3 linked regions of the Homo sapiens genome follow. The protein of the gene in region 1 interacts with the protein of each later gene in a biochemical or structural test. Each region holds a gene or a part of one and is shown in the gene's direction. Other genes may lie near its edges. The genes, in order: NCBP2L, GRID2IP and DLG5.

Region 1 (3,649 bases):
AAGCCCATTTTTAGTGCCTAGTAGGCATTCATCTAATGAGATGGTGGATGTATAACACTTGGTACCTACCACATAGTCACAACTCAATATGTGGTAGATGTCATTATTGTTACCTGACCTTTTCAAACAAACTTGAATGGCAAGTTATGTTTACTATGAGGAGTATGTAAGATAATGCATGACATGTTAAGTACTTAATATAGTGTCTGGCATATAATAATTGCCCAGCAACTGGTGGCAGTTGATAGTGTTATTGTTGCTGCTATCATTATTTTTAGGTTTGGCTGGACTGAGATAGATGGAATCTTCCATCTCTGATCTTTTGGGTCATTCAACTCTGCAATTTGTTACATGTTACATTATTTCATATTACATGAAATTACATATTACATATTTATATATGTAATATGAAATTACATGTTACACATTACATTTTTTCAGATATAATGTCTGCAAGCATGCTTATGTTCAGAACTTTTCCCGATAACAATCTCTGGCCCCAACCATAACAATCTCTGGCCCCAACCACCGCTACCACCATCACCAGCCACATGGTGTTCTCAAGTTGTGGTCTCCACAAAGCATATAGGAAATAGAGGAGCTGGGCAGATGCGGTGGCTCACGCCTGTAATTCCAACACTTTGGGAAGCTGAGGCGGGTGGATCACTTAAGCTCAGGAGTTCAAGACCAGCCTGGGCAACATGGCAAAACCCCATCTCCACAAAAAAAAAAAAAAAAAAAAAAATAGCCAGGTGTGGTGGCATGCACCTGTGGTTTCAGCTACTCAGGAGGCTGAGGTGGGAAGATTGCTTGAGCCTGGGAGGTTGAGGCTGTAGTGAGCTGTGATTGTGCCACTGCACTCCAGCCTGGGCCACAGAATGAGACCTTGTCTCAAAAACAAACAAAAGAAAGAAGGAAGGAAAGAAAGAAGGAAGGAAGGAAGGAAGGAAGGAAAGAAAGAAAGAAGGAAAGAAAGAAAGGAAGGAAGGAAGGAGAAAGAAAGAAAGAGAAAAAAATAAAATAGAGGAATTGATGGTAGAAGAAGTGGAACAGAGCTGTTGTTGCCTCTGAAAATATTTTCTTTATAGTAAAGGGATGACATTGGTTTTCTGATGAGCCTCTGTATTTCCAATCTAAGGACAGTTGGTAGAAGTGAATCAAAATCTTTCCCCAACTTTGTTGGGCACTTTTGCTGTTCTGGATAGGAGGGTAGAGTGTATGTAGATTATAAATATGTTCCTCAGTCCAACCCCATCTCCCTACAACAGCTAGCAGAAATTCCTTCTCCATTAGCAATTAACAGTCCCTTTTCCCCTATTTTCCGTAGCTAGTGCAAGTTTTAGTTTTTTGTTGCAAAGCTTCATGGATATTTTAATGGGCATTCCTAGATGGTGGGTATCAGACTGTGTTATCTTGCTGCCATGTTAACCCAGAGTTCCCCCAGATACAATTGGTTTTCTTGCTAACAACTTCAGGGAGAAGGCACAAAAGTCCTTTGCTTTTTCATGGTCCTTTCTTACTGTCTTTCCAGCCCTCTCCATCCTGGGGGCCCTGTTTTCACCAGTCATCTTATTTTACCCAATACAGGAGTCCTCATCCTTTTTGTAAGGAAAAACTGTGTTGTATATTCCTGATGCCTTGATCTCCCTGGGAAGACGGAAATTAAAGGTAGAGGGAAGTTTACTGAATCTGGGGGCTGGCTACCAGGGTGTGGGAGTGAAGAGGATTGGGGAGATGCTGCTTACTGTCTTCCTCTCTGAGCTGAGAATCCAGGTAAACTGCAGAGAGCAGGGCAGGAGAAGGGCGATCATGTTGGAGAGTTAGCTTGCAAGGCCTTGATATTGTTTGTAGATCCCAAGCTACCGATTAGGGGCCCCTGACCTAATATAGTAAAAAAAAAAATGGTTTGTGTTGTCATTGTGGCTATTTTTTAATATCCTTCCAGAGGTATATCTCCCTTCCTGTATTAGCTTTCTAAATCTTGATACTGTGCACGCAGATTGATCCATTTGCCCTACTTTCCACTCCTTGTAGCATTGTCAATTGTCTTTCAGCCACCTCTGGAATTCTGGACTTGGTTTACCTAGCCTTTGTGACCACTCCATATATTGACATACAGGGAGCCTCCAAGCTGCAGACAGGCTGAGCTCTCAAAGTTCACTCTCAAGTCAATTGTTTGGAAGGTGACATGCATTTTTCCATAGGAGAAAAAAATTGTTATAAATTGAACTACATTTCCAGACCAGCCCACAAAAGATGTTTTTAGCTTTAATGTACTAAAAATGTGGGCCATTTGCAATGACAAAGTAGGAAATCTTGGTAATTCAGCAAAAACAAGAAGACAATCCAAGGGAATAAGAAATACTTTTGCTTGACTGCTGGTACTGGAGTCAAGAAAGCTGAACTGGATGAGGTACACAGGGCTTTCCGGAGGCTCTCCAGAAAGACTCATGGGGACTTTGAAAGTCTGGAATCATAACATAGTTCTAAGTTTACTTCAGAACTGATGGCTTTCAATAATAATGACTACCACATACTGAGCACTTACTGTGTGTCAGGCGCTGTGTTAGGCAGTTTACATACCTTCCCCTCATTTCATTTCATTCTCACAACAACACTATGAGGTAAATACTATAATGACCCTTATTTTACAGACTGAGGCTCAGAAGGGTCAAGGAACTTGACAAAAGTTATACAGACAGCACAATTAGAGGCCAAGTCAATGGTTTCCTACTGCCCAAACCTGTGCTTTACAATATATATCTGACCACTCTTTTCTTTTCTTTTCTTTATCTGGATATATTGGGAACACTACTTTTGGGGCTATCAGCCATGATTAGAGTTATGTGCCAGATCACAAGGAAACTAAGATTGGGAAACTAGGAGAGGTGGTACAAGGGAGAGAAGGAAGGAGGAAGGGACAGAGAATTTTGTTAGGCAAAAGTTCAACTAAGAAACCACATACGTCAGTGCTTCTCAAACTGTACTGTGCACTCAAATCACCTGAAACTCGTTAAAATGAAGATTATTATTCAGCAGATCTAGGGAGGGGCCTGAGATCCTGCATTTCTAAAAAGCTCCCAGGTGTGCTGCTCCTGCTGGCCCACGGACAACACTTTGAACAGTAAGGCCATATAGTGCAAATGATAAACAAAAAAATTCAAGCATCCATTAACACCTGCTTCCTAATTTAATCCAGATCAGCTTCTACACTAAACAGTCACTTATTATCCTCTTTTCTCCTGTAGCCTGTCTCAGGCCATTGTCTCCGCTTTAGTTCTGCCAGTCTGTTTCAGCTTATGTTTGTTTATTTATTTATTTGTACAAATTTAAGGGGTTCGAGTGCAGTTTTGGTACATGGATATATTGCAGAGTGGTGAAGTCTGGGCTTTTAATGTAACCGTCACCCAAACAGTGTAGATTGTACCCATTAAGTAATTTCTCATCTCTCACCTCCATGACATGTTTATGTTTAACTACTCATTTAAATACAGGTGTTAAATACATATGAACATCTTCTGTCACTCTGAGCACTAGGCAGTCTCAATCAGACATGAATTTCTCTTGGCACAAAGTAGATATTTGGCCACAGGGTTCCAGTCCTCAACAATGGCTCTCAGCTCTCTCACCCATTAGGAACAGTCTTATA
Region 2 (3,749 bases), on another chromosome or scaffold:
CTGGGTGCAGTGGCTCACATGTGTAATCCCAGCACTTTGGGAGGCTGAAGAAGGAGGATCGCTTGAGCCCAGAAGTTTGAGACCTGTCTGGGCAACATAGTGAGACCCCATTTCTATAAAAATTTTTTTTTAATTAGCTGGGCATGGTAGTATGCGCCTGTGATCCCAGCTACTCAGGAGGCTGAGGCAGGAGGATGACTTCAGCTTGGAAGGTCAAGGCTGCAGTGAGATATGATGGTGTTCCTGCATTCCAGACTGGGTGACAGAGTGAGACTTTGCCTCTAAAAAATAAAGCCCAAGAGGCTGGGCACGGTGGCTCACGCCTGTAATCACAGCACTTTGGGAGGCCAAGGCAGGTGGATCACCTGAGGTCAGGAGTTGGAGACCAGCCTGGCCAATATGGTGAAACCCTGTCTCTACTAAAAATACAAAAAGTAGCCGCGCATGGTGGTGGACACCTGTAATCCCAGCTATTCGGGAGGCTGAGGCAGGAGAATCGCTTGAACCCAGGAGTCAGAGGTTGCAGTGAGCCGAGATCACACCACTGCACTCCAGCCTGGGTGACAGAACAAGACTCTGTCTCAAAAATAAAATAAAATAAAATAAATGCCCAAAGATATGAATGGTCTCTGAGGGACCATTCTGCTCCAACATTCTGGACTTCCGTAAGTTTGTGATTCATGCCAGATCCCGAAAGGGAATTTTGGTAGATGGAGAGGGGTAAGAAGAGGGATTAAAGTGTAGGGAGTGAGGAGGGCCCATGGAAGCCAAGTGTACATGTAAGACAGTAAAACAGACCTGTGGAAGCAGGAGGGGCCCATGGAAAAGGATGTGGCCGCATTGGTTAAAAATCCAAGGCACTCAAAAGAAGACTTTAAGGAAGGGCCATTTTTCTTTTACACCCCCTCCCCAATTTTGTTTTTAGTAAAAACAAACAAACAAACAAACAAAAAACAAAAAAACAAGCCAGGCATGATGGTTCATGCCTGTAATCCTAGCACTTTGAGAGGCCAAGCAGGCAGATCACCTGAGGCCAGGAGTTCAAGACCAGCCTGGGTAACATAGTGAAACCCTGTCTCTACTAAAAATACAACAATTAGGCAAGCCAGGCACGGTGGCTCACGCCTGTAATCCCAGCATTTTGGGAGGCCAAGGCAGGCAGATCACCTAAGGTCAGGAGTTCGAGACCAGCCTGACCAACATGGAGAAACCCCGTCTCTACTAAAAATACAAAATTAGCCAGGCTTGGTGGCACATGCCTGTAATCCCAGCTTCTCAGGAGGCTGAGGCAGGAGAATCATTTGAACCCAGTAAGCGGAGGTTGCGGTGAGCTGAGATCACGCCATTGCACTCCAGCCTGGGCAACAAGAGCGAAACTCTGTCTTAAAAAAACAAAAACAAAACAAAACAAAAAAACATAGATGGAAGGGAATTGAGACAAAGACGGAGTCAGAGGGAGGAGGCAGAGATAAGTAGAGGCCTTCAGTGGCCCTGGGCCTTTGAGTGGCTTTGGAGCCATGGACAGAGCAGCAAGGAAATCCCTGTTCTGTCTCCAGTTCTAGGTGCATGGCCACCACTGCCACGCCGGCCACGAACCAGGGCTGGCCAGAGGACTTTGGCTTCCGGCTAGGTGGCTCTGGCCCCTGCTTCGTCCTGGAGGTGGCCAAGGGGAGCAGCGCGCATGCCGGAGGACTGCGGCCAGGAGACCAGATCCTGGAGGTGGAGGGGCTGGCGGTGGGCGGTCTGAGCCGCGAGCGCCTCGTGCGCCTGGCACGGCGCTGCCCACGTGTGCCGCCCAGTCTGGGCGTGCTCCCGGCTCCCGACGGTGGCCCCGGCCCAGGATCCGGCCCCGCGGCCCCGACCACAGTCTTGCGGGCCCCGCGGTGCGGCCGCGGCCTAGCTCTGGGCCGTGAGCTGCTTCGCCTGGCCGGCCGCAAGCGCCCGGACGCGGTGCACCGAGAGCGCAGGCGCAAGGCCCAAGAGTTCAGCCGCAAGGTAAGGCGCGGGGGTGGGAGGTGGGGGCGGGAAGGAGGGGGCTCATAATGTGGGCAGGGAGTGGGCCGGGCGCCGCTCTCCCAGGGCCAGAGGTAAGGAAACTTCTGGGGTCAGATTTAACAGAAATATGGGAATGCTCAACTTCAAAACCTTGCAAACAATTTTGCATTTTTTTTTTTTGAGACAGAGTCTCGCTCTGTCACCCAAGCTGGAGTGCAGTGGCCAGGTCTTGGCTCAGTACAACCTCTGCCTCCCAAGTTCAAGTGATTCTCCTGCCTCAGTCTTCCAGTAATTGAGATTACAGGCGTTTGCCACCACACCCAGCTAATTTTTTTTTTTTTTTTTTTTTTGGTATTTTTAGTAGAGACGGGGTTTCACCATGTTGGTCAGTCTGGTCTCAAACTCCTGACCTCAAGTGATCTGCCCACCTCTGCCTCCCAAAGTGCTGGGATTACAGGCATGAGCCACTGCGCCCGGCCTAATTTTGCAATTTTTATTCACTTGTGTTTCTTTTTTATTAAGGTACTATAGGTGTAAAGTGCATTAAGTGTGCAGCTCAATAAATTTTCCATATACATGCACCCTTGAATAACCACCCTCTTGATCAATATATAAAATAATAGGATATAGATAAAAATATAATGTAGACTATAGAATAATTGACACCAGAATGTTCCCACGTGCCCCTTTCTCTGTCTATCCTCCCCATTAGAACTTAACTGCAGGCCAGGTGCTAGATGTAATCCTAGCATTTTAGGAGACCAAGGTGGGAGGATCACTTGAGACCCTGAGTTCAAGGCCAGCCTGGGCAACGTAATGAGACACCATCTCTACAAAAAAAATCAAAAACTAGCTTGGCATGGTGGTGCATGCCTTATAGTCCCAGATACTCAGGAGACTGAGGCAGGAAGATCGCTTCAGCCTGGGAGTTTGAGGCTGCAGTGAGCCATGACTGCACCACTGCATTCCAGCCTGGGTAACGGAGTGAGACCGCATCTCTAAAATAAAAAGATAAAATAAAAAGAGCCACAGATATCGCTTCTTGGCCCTTCATCTAAGATCAAGTGTAAAAGAGCCAGTGGGGTGAGGTGGCTCACGCCTGTAATCCCAGCACTTTGGGAGGCTGAGGAGGGCTGATGACTTGAACTCAGGAGTTTGAGACCAGCCTGGGCAATGTGGTGAAATCCCATCACTATCAAAAATATAAAAAAAAAAAAAACCAGCCAGGTGTGGTGGCGCGCGCCTGTGGTGCCAGATACTCAAGGGTGTTGAGGTGGGAGGATTACTTGAGCTTGGGAGACGGAGGTTGCAGTGAGCTGAGATCATGCTACTGCACTGCAGCCTGAGTGACAGAGTGAGACTCCATTCCCCTCCCCGCCATTCCCCACCTCCAAAAAAATGTAAAAGAATTCCGCCTGTTCTAAGCCCCCACAAAACCAGGATTAGACCTGCCCTTGCACAGCGGCCTGGCTGGCTTGTTGGCTGCAGGAGGCCCTAGTTTGGCTTCACCAATCTGCCAAAGGCATTTCCTCTTGACTTTGGCACAAACCAGGCTGTGATAGACTGCAGGTGGAATATTAGCGTGGTCCTGAAGATTAAGAATGAGGAGCCTGGAATGGATCAGACCTCTAGCCACAAGAAGAACCCAAGGCCTGAGTCACCTGCAGGAAGTAGGGTGTGGCCACAAGCCAAGATGGAGGCACCATTTAGAGACCCAGGGCTGGGATGGAAAGAGGGAGGATAGAGTCGGTCTC
Region 3 (3,749 bases), on another chromosome or scaffold:
TATAAATGTTCACAAAAAAGTTGAGATCATGTCAAAAGCTTCATTGACATCCTTGAGCTTATTCATGAAGCCAAGGCTAAGAACCCCTGATCTAATATTCTCCCTCCACCATTTTTCCTAAGGACAAAACAGATCAGCAAGGATTATTGGTTTGTTCCACCTTGTGCAGCTGCTTAGAGGGGAGTCCAAGTCCAAAGTGCAAATTCTGATACTCTTGTTCTTTCTACCATATAGTGAGTTCGTTTCCATAAATAAAAACGACTTCTCCCCTTGAAGAAGCAGACTAAGAAGACACTGCTTTTTGAGGGAAGGGAGGAGGCATGTGGCTGGGACTGGCAGTGTGGGTAGACAAAGTGCCTCTCACCCCCAGCGAGATCCACTCATTCCAACGTAGATATTTGAAATGGACCTGGGTTCCCACTCTACAGAGGAGCACTGCGGGATCACTGAGCGCAGTCAGAGTTCCAGCTTTGAAGGACCTTGTCCTGCAGTCAGGGAGGTAAGCAGTATGTGTCCACAAACGGCTGTCGTGGAAGAGAAGACATTCTTGGGCTTTAAGGGGGACTGCAGATCCTTTCCAAGTCATCAAAGGAAGCAAGGTAGTCCGCTGATTTGTCTCCCTCTGAGACATTTAGGGGGAGAGCGCCTCACTTGCCAGAAAGACCAAGGACTGCACCGCAGACACCCACCTTTCTTTTCCTCATCCGGCGACACATCCTTCCTCCTGCCAACATCCTAACTCCTTTACACTCTGGGGACCAGCTCTTCTCAAATGCTGGCGCGGGGAACAGCCTATTTACCGCAGTTGAGGCGATTTTACTGGGAAATTCTCTTAGGAGCTCCTTGGAGAGGGAAAGCCTCACGGATTCGGCGGAGGTCTTAATCTGGAGATGTCCAAATTTAGGGGAAACCCTCCCCACCATTTGTCTCCAGGCTGTATTTTGGAGTTCTCAGATTAGGACCCTCTGGACTGGGGGCAAGATTTGTATGAGGGGGTCTCCAGCAGCTTGTGGGCTGGCCGCGTGCCAGGCCTGACTCCGTGTCCCCCACCCCCGGCTGCGCCTGGGCCTCGGGGGACCGGGAACCAGCCGGCGCCGCGTCCCCGCCTAGCGGGCGGGCCGGGGACCCCTCCCCTCCGCCCGTCCCCTCCTCCCCTGCTGCCGCCTCCCGGAGGGACGGCCTGGGGAGGGGAGAGAGGAGGGACGGGCCGGCGGCGGCGGGGCTGTGGCCACGGGGGAGCGGGTGGCGGCCGCGGGGCCCCGGTGAGCCGGGCCGGGGTGCACGGGGGCCGAGGCGGCCTCCGAGCCGGGCCGGAGCTGTCGGGAGCCTGGGAAACACGGCCCAGGCGACTTTCTCCCGGGAGTTGTAGTCTTGCTCTGGGGGCGGCGCGCGGCCCGGCTTTCGGGGCGAGTTTTCTCGCGGGGCGGGCGGCGCGCGCGGAGGCTGAGGGGGAGGGGGAGCATGCCCGGCTGGAGCCCGGCCTCGGGGCGCGCCCCGGCCGCCGTCCCCACCTCCGCCTCCTCCTTCTCCTCCTCCGTCTCCTCCTCCTCCTCTTCCAGTCCCGCCGCCGCGGCAGCCAACATGGCTGCGCTCCGGAGCCCGGGAGGCGGCCGCTGCTGAGCGCCGCCCGCCGCCCCGGGCCCCCAGCCCGCCCAGGCCCCGGCCCATGGCTCCCGCCGCCTCACGGCTCCCGGCGCCCTAGGGCTGCTGCCGAGGTGCTCGCCTGCCCGCCCGCCGGCCTCGGGGGGCCCGGGAGGCGTCCGGCGGGGCGGGGCGGCGCGGCCCGCCACCATGGAGCCCCAGCGCCGGGAGCTGCTCGCCCAGTGTCAGCAGAGCCTGGCCCAGGCCATGACGGAGGTGGAAGCCGTGCTCGGGCTGCTCGAGGCCGCGGGAGCGCTCAGTCCCGGCGAGCGGCGGCAGCTGGACGAGGAGGCGGGAGGCGCCAAGGCGGAGCTGCTGCTCAAGCTGCTCTTGGCCAAGGAGCGGGACCACTTCCAGGACCTGCGGGCGGCGCTGGAGAAGACGCAGCCTCACCTGCTGCCCATTCTCTACCTGAACGGCGTCGTCGGGCCGCCGCAGCCCGCCGAAGGCGCGGGTGAGTGGCAGACCCTTGGCCCCCGCCTCTGGGACGCGCCCTCCGCTTCTCCCTCCTGCTGGCCGAGGGTACCTCGCCGGGGCCGCCGCTCCACCTGGCGATGGCCTCGGTGGACTCGCTCCTCTGGCCCAGTTGGGGAGGCGGCGGTGCGCGGATCCCGAAGTCCCGCCGCCTCCCCCAGTCCCGCCGTTCGCTGTGAACAATGCCCCCCGCTGAAGGCCTTCACTCTCAGGTGCCTCGACGACAGGGTCCCCGGGGGCCACCAGGTCCAGTAGCGGGTAGGGGGTACCTCGGAGGATGTCCATCAGTCCCTTTTCTGAGGCTCCTCACCGTCCGCTAGCTTTGGCACCCTGTGCTAGCCTTTAACCAAGGGTACCGTCCAGAAGAATGGGACTTGGGCCAGGACCCCTACTCTTAAGTTTTGGTCGCTGCCATCCTGTGCCGGGGCCACAACTGCTTTTTCATTTTCTGGCTGTCCCAGCTCCTTTTTCTCTGCTCAGAGCCCAGTCTCTCCCAGACTGGTGGCTGATTGTGCACAACGCCTGCCTGGGTTTCTTTGGAAACTGGGCCCGGAAAAGTTGGGGAAGTTGCATTGCACCATGGGAAAATCCTAGTAGTGGCTGCTGGGGCTAAGTTCTCTCCCTGAGAGCACAGAGCTGCTTAACGAGGAAGGCTGGTGACTGGTTCCCTTGAGGGTGCCTTTTGGAACCCCTGTGTCTTTGGTCTTGGGGATGACTGATTTGTAAGTGTGTGTCTGGGTGCAGGAACGGATACTGGCGGGAGTTTCTGACAAGTGGTAGGCTTGTCCTGGCCTGGCCGTGGAGTGTGGAAGCCAGCCTTTTTAGACAAGGCAGCTGGAGGAAGAAGACATGGCACTGAGGGAGGAGGAGAACTAGCATTTATTGGGCATCTACTGTTGTGGCAGGCGCTCTGCTTTATCACGTTCAGTTGTCGTTGCCACTATGTGAGCTTTCTGTTATTCTTTGCCAGAGAGAAAACTCTGGCTTGGAGTGGTTAAAATGCTCAGAAAGTATTGGGCACCAGGAATTTTGAATTATAACCTATTGTTTGATTTAACTTGTTCAGAGCCAGGAAACAAAGTGCCATCTTTCTAGGTCTTGTCCCTGTTTTAACAGTGAATCGATAGGTACAGTAAAAATAAATAAGGATATATGTATAAAAGAAAAACAAGTGAACCGAGAGGGCTGAGAAACTGCCCTTAGCAACCTGAAGGTCAAAGGCTGATGGGACCCATTTATTTGGCTGTTAAAAGCCCCACTTATTAAGGGAATGATTTTATAAGGCATTCCTGGTAACAGCTCTCTTACGTTGGCCATCTTAACCTCAATTTTTGTAGCTGCAGGAAACTGACAGAGAGACTAAATTGCTGGCCACACAGCAGGTCATTTCATTGGTGGCCCTCCCGTCTCCACTTTGAGCTTCTGACTTGCATCTCTGTCCCTCAAACCTGCATTCTTTCCCCCCAGTTGTGGTCATGTCAGAGTTACTGGGCAAACCTAGTCCTTTCCTGGGATAGTGCTTTGGGAGATGCTAGGAAGGGACTGTCAGATGTGGCCATGAGGATAAGGACAGAGGGGATCTCAACAAAGTAATTTTTTTCTTTTTAATTGTATCTATGTATCTATCTAATCTA

What was found.
Region 2: the proteins of NCBP2L (region 1) and GRID2IP interact in a test that uses a peptide from one of them, tested with the Homo sapiens proteins (one large-scale study listed by IntAct).
Region 3: the proteins of NCBP2L (region 1) and DLG5 interact in a test that uses a peptide from one of them, tested with the Homo sapiens proteins (one large-scale study listed by IntAct).

What each region holds. Positions count from the first base shown.
Region 1 is NC_000023.11:107,784,086-107,787,734, forward strand, and holds part of NCBP2L (nuclear cap-binding protein subunit 2-like), read left to right. Parts: intron 1-3,649.
Region 2 is NC_000007.14:6,549,254-6,553,002, reverse strand, and holds the start of GRID2IP (delphilin), read left to right. Parts: upstream 1-1,541; 5' UTR 1,542-1,566; coding exon 1,567-1,995; intron 1,996-3,749.
Region 3 is NC_000010.11:77,924,563-77,928,311, reverse strand, and holds the start of DLG5 (disks large homolog 5), read left to right. Parts: upstream 1-1,556; 5' UTR 1,557-1,791; coding exon 1,792-2,095; intron 2,096-3,749. UniProt on the Homo sapiens protein: Acts as a regulator of the Hippo signaling pathway.